Regions from separate parts of the Homo sapiens genome. Here all the other regions are linked to region 2. Evidence: fine-mapped expression QTL. A gene starts in region 2. Each other region holds a variant in brackets. All regions are shown on one strand. Distances are between the middles of the regions.

Region 1 (2,500 bases), 450 kb after region 2:
AACCCACTTATTCAGTTCATTCTTGGCTTTCTGAGAAGTGGAGACACACTGCACACTCTGAGGGCAGAAGCTCTCGGCCAGAAATCTGAACATGAAGCCCTTTCAGAGGTAAGCTGCTCTGAGTCCTCAGTTGAGCAGGGCTGGGCGTGGTTCCCCCAGGCCTGCAGCCTTTAGGAGGATTGTGTGCTGCATTTTTCCCCAGGGTTCCCCTGTCCTCTCAAGCACACTGTGGCCTCTATATTCCTATGCCACTTGCCCAGGGGAGGCCTGTCCCCTGGGGTTGTGGGGGAGGGGAAGAAGGCCCATCTTTGGGGTGCTCATCTTCAGGGCACCGTGCTCCCAAATCCCTGTGAGCTCATTGTCCGCGTGCTGCAATGAGCGTCCTGTGATGAGGACCTCATGCTGGGGCCAGGCGAGACCATTCCTCTTGTCTTTGGTTGAGGTACATGCTGATCAAGGCCTGAGCTCTTCAGGGAGAGCACAGGCATGTGAGCTTTCCTGTCTGACAGCATTAATCAGCATATTTGGTTTTTCAAGGTCACAGAAGACCCTGTTTAATCATTTTTTTACACACTATTATGGGGGCCAGGAATGTACCGACACAAGGTCTGAGAAAACCAGTTTTGATCTGAAACCAAGGGGTGACCTGGAATTCAGTTCTAAAACACTGATTTCTTTGAAGACGAAAAAGCTCTTAGAAGGATCCTCAGGATTATCGTAAGTAAAAAGCAAAACTGGTACTACCTGTTTACTGTTTCAGCTAGCCCCCTCCTGTCTTTTAGCCTGGGAAGAGAGAAGATGAAATCCCATGGGCTCTGAGCCCACATCATCTGAGAATCTATTTCATTTAAAGATAATTCATTAGGTTTCATTTTTAATCTTATACTAAGATGAAACTTATCATAATAGGTTTCTATTTGGTCATTTTTCTCCTTGTGGAGAAACGTGGGATAATTCTAATTCTCCTTTGGTGTGACATCATGTTTATCCTGTGAAGATGGCTTTCTTTTTTATAATGAATCTTTTCTTCTGCACTAAACAGACACCTTCCATCCCAGACTCCCTAGTTTCTTCATGCTGCATGATTTAGAGTTGCTTCATTATTCTGATTTTACTTATCAGTTTTTCTTTCAGAACATTATAATTCATCAAGGTCTTTATTAAAGTGTGATGCCCAGAAGTAGGCATAGCTTTAAAGGTATGTTGTGGATATTGACAGAATTGTCCAATCTGTT[A/G]TATTTCTTACCTACTCAAAAACAAACCTACAAGCCCTCCATTAGGAAAAAAATAAAAATCATGTGGTTAATCTCCAAAAAAAGTCAGGGATCCTTTCTTCCCTAGGCATCCTATTTGTTCCACTCTGGTGTTGCCAACTTCTTTCTTTTACCTTGTGGGTTAATTTCTCTGCCCATGTTATTTTGACACATAGATTTATACTCTCTATTGTGTGTGTATACTGACTCTGATTTTGTCAATATGAGCAAGTTGCATCTAAATATGTATGAAAAAATATGTGCAAATGCATCTGAAGAAGCCACATCAGATACTGTCTGCTTAGATGACCTCCTTCAGGGACCACTTCTTGATATTCTCTGTATAATTACTTATCTTTGGGCCACCCAGCATTTTACTGGAAGTCATTCTGGGAATGCTGTGATTTGCACAGGAACTGCCATCAGTAGTACCAGAGAATGTGGAAACATGGCAGAGGCGAGGCAGTCCAGGAGTTCTGTGCTGCTTCTGTGTGTACTCTTGCCTCAGGTAGATGGATGTCTTTGGTACAAGATACATAGGAGAAAACCAGTATACTTATAACTTAGTCCATTAATACAGCACTCTGGAAGGATTAATACTGGTAAGGATAATGAGACTATATTCTGATTCAAATAATGGGATATTCTGGCCAAAGATTATGTTGCTTGTTGTCCATGAGGAGGGGTTTTTGTTTTTCTGGGTACTTGAGAAAATGCTATTCCATTGACAGTGTCCAAATTATGTCAAAACAACTTACAAGTTGACTCAGAGCTTATATAAACAGTAGGGTGGTTTGGGGGATAATTATCAGATGAATCAGCTGCTTGATTGGAGTTTTTGTTCTTTTAGCCAGCAGAAACATAATAATTCAGTGCTGTAGGTAAGGCCTAGGGAATAGTAAGTGCCCACTGAAAATATTAAGAAAAGATAAGGAACCAAGAGAGCTCCGACAGAGGCGTAGCTGGTGAAGTGATAAGCAGCAAGTGTTCAAAATGTTGTTTGATTGGATTTTCTTTTAAGGAAAAGGGAAAAGGGAAACCTCATGAGACAAATGCTAAATTTGTAGTTATCAAAAGATCACAGTAACCAAGATTGATAAATGAATGACTATAACGAGAAAGCCAAGAATCTTATTTTACCAGCATAAAAGATAAAGCAAAAATTTTCAAATTTTCTTTGAGATTTAATATTTTATATCACTTAACATACTTTACAGAACATTTCACATTAAATTACTAGGTTCTTT
Region 2 (2,850 bases):
ATATTATTTATATTTTTTGTATTTTATATTTTGAACTGCAAACAAGGCACAAACCTGCAGGTCTTGTCTATGTCCTCCAAATCACAGGCACTGCCAAGAGCATAGTGATTGTTGGGATTTAAAGGAATAAATTTCGTTTTTTGGCTTTATTGGTATACTTGGACAATAAAAGTCATGTGAACAATGTCAAATGTAAAGTTTAAAATAAATCATTCTTGTTCATGGAGATTAGTTTTGTTTTTTAGATCTTTTTACATTTTAATCTCCCCAAAATCACATATTTAGATATGAACATTTTGCCAAAAGAGGGCAGTATTCGCCTACAGTAGAATGTAAAGGGACTGAAACATTTCTGCAGAGACAAGGATGAACTTATTTTCCTCTTAAGATTGGTCTACTAGTCTGATCATCTGGGATTGACCATGCAAGTTTTAATTTGTTTTCTATTACTTTTATGGATTTAAAACATTTTTGTTTGAAAATGTTAGTCTTTAAAGATAAAGCCAAAAATCTGTTTAAAAATACCTGCTTACAGAATGACCAAAAAGTAGATGTTTTCATATTTATTAAGTTTTCAGACACGTCCTCAACGAGGTGCTGCTCACTTCAGGGAAAGATGGCCAGTTCAAACTGCTGATGAAAAGTCTGCAACCAGCAAGACCACTGCTGCCAGTGTGTCCTGAGGGAGCTTGCATCTGTTTGACTTTACATATACATACTTAGGTTTGTCCATCAGTTGTATCCTCTTGAAGGAGGTATGTGAGTTCATGGTTTTAAGCATATAAATTTAAACGTTAAAAGAAGAAATCAGAAGTAGCCCGTTTGAGTCTTACATGAGTGAAATGTGTTGGGTTTCAGCAGCAGAATATATAGAAGGAAATGAAACAATTTTTATTAAAGAGCATAGTTTGGAATAAAGAAAGAATATGTGCACCTAGATGAACGAATTAGAACTCTGCCTGCCCTTTAGGGTTTGGTAATGTTACCAGATAAAAAAGAAGAAAAGCTGTTCTGCATTGTTTCAATACATTCTTAATCAACTTGGGCTTCAAGAGGACAGCTGGAGGCTAAGAGGTCGGGTTTTTCATCAAATGCGCAGTGGAAGTAATTTTGGAAAAGTTTGTTTGCATTATGCTGCCTAAAACACGGTGTTTTAGAAAGAGGCTTTTGCATTGAAAAGCTTCTCGTCCTCGCCTCTGGGAGTCTAGTGCTTCCTAGAGCTGCTTGTGCCCTCAGCCCTGTAATGTGATATCCCTCCTCCTGGATTGGTCAGAGGGGTGTCCTTTCCCTGGGAGCTGCTTTCCACCACGGCTCCCAAACTTGGCTCAGTCCAGCAGCCACCATCACCACCACTGCGGTTGCTGCTGCAGCTGCAGCTGCTGCTCTCCCTCCGGCTGCTTCTTCGCGTGGCCAGCAGCGAATGGAGCGATGGAGCCCAGACTGTTCTGCTGGACCACTCTCTTTCTCCTGGCCGGGTGGTGCCTGCCAGGGTTGCCCTGCCCCAGCCGGTGCCTTTGCTTTAAGAGCACCGTCCGCTGCATGCACTTGATGCTGGACCACATTCCTCAGGTACCACAGCAGACCACAGTTCTGTAAGTTCACATAAATTCCCCAGAAACCCTCTTCCCCAATGCTTCATTGCTTCTCTGCTAGGACCTGTGTCCTTTTAATTTACGATTCCTAATGCTCTCCCTGCTTGTATACTTAGAAGAGGCTTTTCACTTTTCAAACAATTTCATGGTTCTGCTCTGTTAGACTAGAAAATGTAAGCAATGATGAGTTGACATAAATATATTTGTTTTGGATTCAGTTCTCTTCCAGCATCTTCCAGAACTTAGCATTGAGAATTCTCGTCTTCATTCTTCCTTCAATAATTTTCCTGCATACTTTCTCAATTTATTCCTATTCATCCTCTACTCCCAAGTCTTTGGGCCTCTTAATTGGTCAGCACGTGTCTGCCCCATTTGGAAGGAACTAATTTAACTTTAGAGTGTGGTTTCAATTGATTATGTGCTGACAAATTGTTAGGCTTTGTACTGTGTGTACCTCCTGGGAGGGTGAAGTCCTGAGCCCTCAGCACTTGAAGCACTGTCTGTCTCCAGAACAGACCCTCAAATGGTCCAGTAGAGTTCTTGAATGCTTAAAAGCCTTGTGGAGCAGCCGCTTAGACTAATCGGCATCTAGGAGGCATTACGGGATAGTAGGGCAAACCAGAATTTGGAAGTCAAACAGGTCTGAGTTCAAATCCTATCTTCTCATCTTTAATATTCAGATAATAAACCCAAACATTTAGATTTATTTAGATTAAATTAAGTCATAATTAGATAATTAGAAGGGCAAATCACCACAAAAGAAGAAAAGGATCTGTTTCTAGGGTCTATTTTTAAAGAAAGAAAAAGACGACAAATTCAAAAATTTAAGAAAAAATAAAAGAAGAAAAGGAAAAATGCTGAAAGATGCAGACTAAAGAGGTTTCCTGCTCTATAATAAATATTTTGTGGGTTGTGTCATGTTCATGGAAGACAAAACTGCTTGCAGTGTTTCAAGTCCATTCTTGGGCAGAGGGAAATAGCTTAAAATTCCTGGAATTTTGAGATATAAATGTTTAAGAGGATCATTGCCACACATTTGTCAGTCATAATCGTGAAATGAGGACTTGGTAATAAAAAGTCCAATTTGATGGTATTTACATAGAAAATGACATATTATCCATAGATTTTCATTTCTATAAAGCATTTCATTAATTTTATATGCATGCAGATATCAAAATACGTCTTACTGTAATAACTGAAAGGATTCTTGAACTTGGGAGCACTGCTTATTGCTATGTGGACAGCACAGTTCTGCAAG
Region 3 (2,500 bases), 400 kb after region 2:
GGCATTATCATGTAGATATTGTATAACATTTTCATTGTCTTAGAGGTTTTAAATGTAATGGCATTACATTTAAAAATGTAATGCCATTCATATAATATCATGCCTAACTTCAAGGTCTGTTTGATATTTTTAATCATGGAATTGATTTTCAAAGCTATACAGGGTAGACAAGCTGGCGATGACTTTGTTGAATCTTCCATTCTTGATGCTGTACAGAGAGTTGACAGTGCAATTAACTCCACACGAAGACATTTGTTTTCACAGTAAGAATTTATTTTACACAGATTGAAACCTTGTTTTCATTTCTGTTCTACTTAGTTTTTATCATCTCCATAAGTCACATTATAGTGCATATGCAATAGAGTGCTTTCTTTAGTCCTTGTGTATGCATCCCCATCTGGGCTAGCCATCATTATCAGTTCACCCTAAAAAAGGGGAAACTTCTTCCCCATAGAATCTAAATGGCATTAATTTATGCCAAAGGTCCATGCTATACAGGCTGACAATAGACACTAGGCAATGGGCTGGGTTACCTCAGCATCCACCAAACAGTGTCAGATGCAGTGCTCCTGCAATGTGTGAATTGAGAATGATTATCAAGTTGAACACACCTTGGTATAAACTGGGAGCCTACGACAAACATTATGTTTAGGATATTTGGCATTTTACATTATTTTAATTTGAATTGGAATGTTCATGGACTAGTGAAACCTTCCAATCCCATTAACTTCTCTGTGTTTGTAACATCAGGATGCATTAACAAAAAAATGATTGTTGATTTCATCATAATCGGATAAAGTATATATTCAGTATTTGCAGTTAGTGGTCAAAAAGGGACATCGTAAAATCCCAAATTGAGTCTCTTCTGGCTTCCTGCACATCCATAAATAGAATGGCTTTGTGATCATGCATGTGTGTTCTAGAACCACGCAGCCGATTTAGATTTATATTCTCTTCCTGATTCCTCACTTCATTACTTTCTGTCTGGGTGACCTTGAGCAAGTGACTTAACATCTTTGTACCTCAGGCTCCTTGCTCTCTAAAGTTGGGATAACAGTAGGATCTACTTCATGGATGTGCTTGCTAGGAAGAAAAAATAAGATAATATGTAAAAAGTGCTTCAACAGTGCCTGGAGAATAGAAAGTGCTTAACCAAAGTGAACTATTAGCATCATTATTATTATTCTGTGACCTCAAGTAGTTAAGATTCAAGACATAGAGGATGAGATGTGCCTCAGTTGATCAAAGTCTCTAAAACAGTTTGCTTCACATTCTCAGTGCTTTTAAATTTCTTTTTAACATATTTGGTTCAGTTCTACAAATGTGCATAAACTGCTATTATGTGCTGGTCAGTGGGCTTGGTATTTGGGATACAAGATAAATAATAGGTCAACATCTCATCAGCAACCTAGTTCTTTCTTTAGCAGAGGAGACAATATGTCAGCAATTCAAGTACATTTTACTGAGTATATAAGACACATATTTAAGGATACAGGA[G/A]TACTAGAGAAGATGGAGTGATAGCTTGTCAGAGCTCTCAGTGAAACTCTACAGGGAGAGTGAGGCCTGAGGAGGATTCTAAAGGCAAGGAGGAATTTCTAGGAGATTACACTCAGGGAAAGAGAAGACACAAAATGCCAAGTCCTGCAGACCGAGAGTATTGCATAGTACTTCAGAAGGTTTACTGAGCCTCCTATAATCCATTCATCAACCGACCCCCCCAGTTTAGAACCCCACCATAGATGTTGTTTCCTAAAACTATTGTTTAAATCATCCATTCATTAAAAATATATATTTTTGAGTTCAGCACTGGGACTAACATTTGGAATAAGTTGTTAGCAAAATAGGAAAAGAACCCACAGCTCCTCTGTAGAGCCTCTATTGTAGTGGTGGAGCTTTCATTCTTCTCGAATGTTTGGGAAATGCCTTTTTAAATGCACAGTATTTGCAAGCTTCATGGACTCTGCTGTTTTGCCTTGTAAAGAATCATGTGTTTTGTCATTTGCAGAAAACCTCACACCTCCAGTGACCTGCTGGCTCAATTTCATTACCCGCGTGACCCACTGATTGTGGAAATGGCAAGAGCAGGGGAGATTTTTGAGCACACGCTGCAGCTGATACGGGAACGTGTGAAGCAGGGGCTCACTGTGGACTTGGAAGGCAAAGGTCAGCCACAAAGCCATTTTATTCTCAGCCTACTGCCCACAGAAAAACTGACCACCACCTTAGCAAAGGACACTGAACTTTTAATCTCCAGAATATCATGGGATTTAGAAATTAATTTACTCACTACTTTTACCAAATAAATGCAGATGTTTCTCATAGGAACTGTAATTCCAAAGTAAGGATGATAAATATATATTCAAACTTGTCTCAACTTTTAAGTTATATGTATAGAGAACAAATCTAGGGAACCTACATTAAGTGAACTTGTGTTTCAAATGTAAAAGATATTATTGTGTCTTATAGAGAAATGCTTTATTACCAGGGGGATATTCTTCCA

The links. PIP is the estimated chance that this variant, and not a neighbour inherited with it, causes the effect.
Region 1: its variant is the best candidate, but not a certain one, in a credible set for the expression of PXDNL in atrial appendage (GTEx, PIP 0.72).
Region 3: its variant is the best candidate, but not a certain one, in a credible set for the expression of PXDNL in left ventricle (GTEx, PIP 0.80).

The regions. Positions count from the first base shown.
Region 1 is chr8:51,356,544-51,359,043 of GRCh38, reverse strand. The region is part of intron 19 of PXDNL (peroxidasin like); the gene reads left to right. Among named protein-coding and RNA genes, the nearest start is that of PXDNL, 450 kb to the left of the region's middle. The variant A/G (reference allele first, on the strand shown) is at 1,236.
Region 2 is chr8:51,807,923-51,810,772 of GRCh38, reverse strand. PXDNL (peroxidasin like) reads left to right here and starts at 1,328. Exons shown (of 23, transcript NM_144651.5): 1 at 1,328-1,592. The coding sequence starts at 1,429. RefSeq lists enhancers at 911-1,432, 1,433-1,955.
Region 3 is chr8:51,410,913-51,413,412 of GRCh38, reverse strand. PXDNL (peroxidasin like) reads left to right here. Exons shown (of 23, transcript NM_144651.5): 15 at 155-263; 16 at 2,006-2,163. Among named protein-coding and RNA genes, the nearest start is that of PXDNL, 400 kb to the left of the region's middle. The variant G/A (reference allele first, on the strand shown) is at 1,498.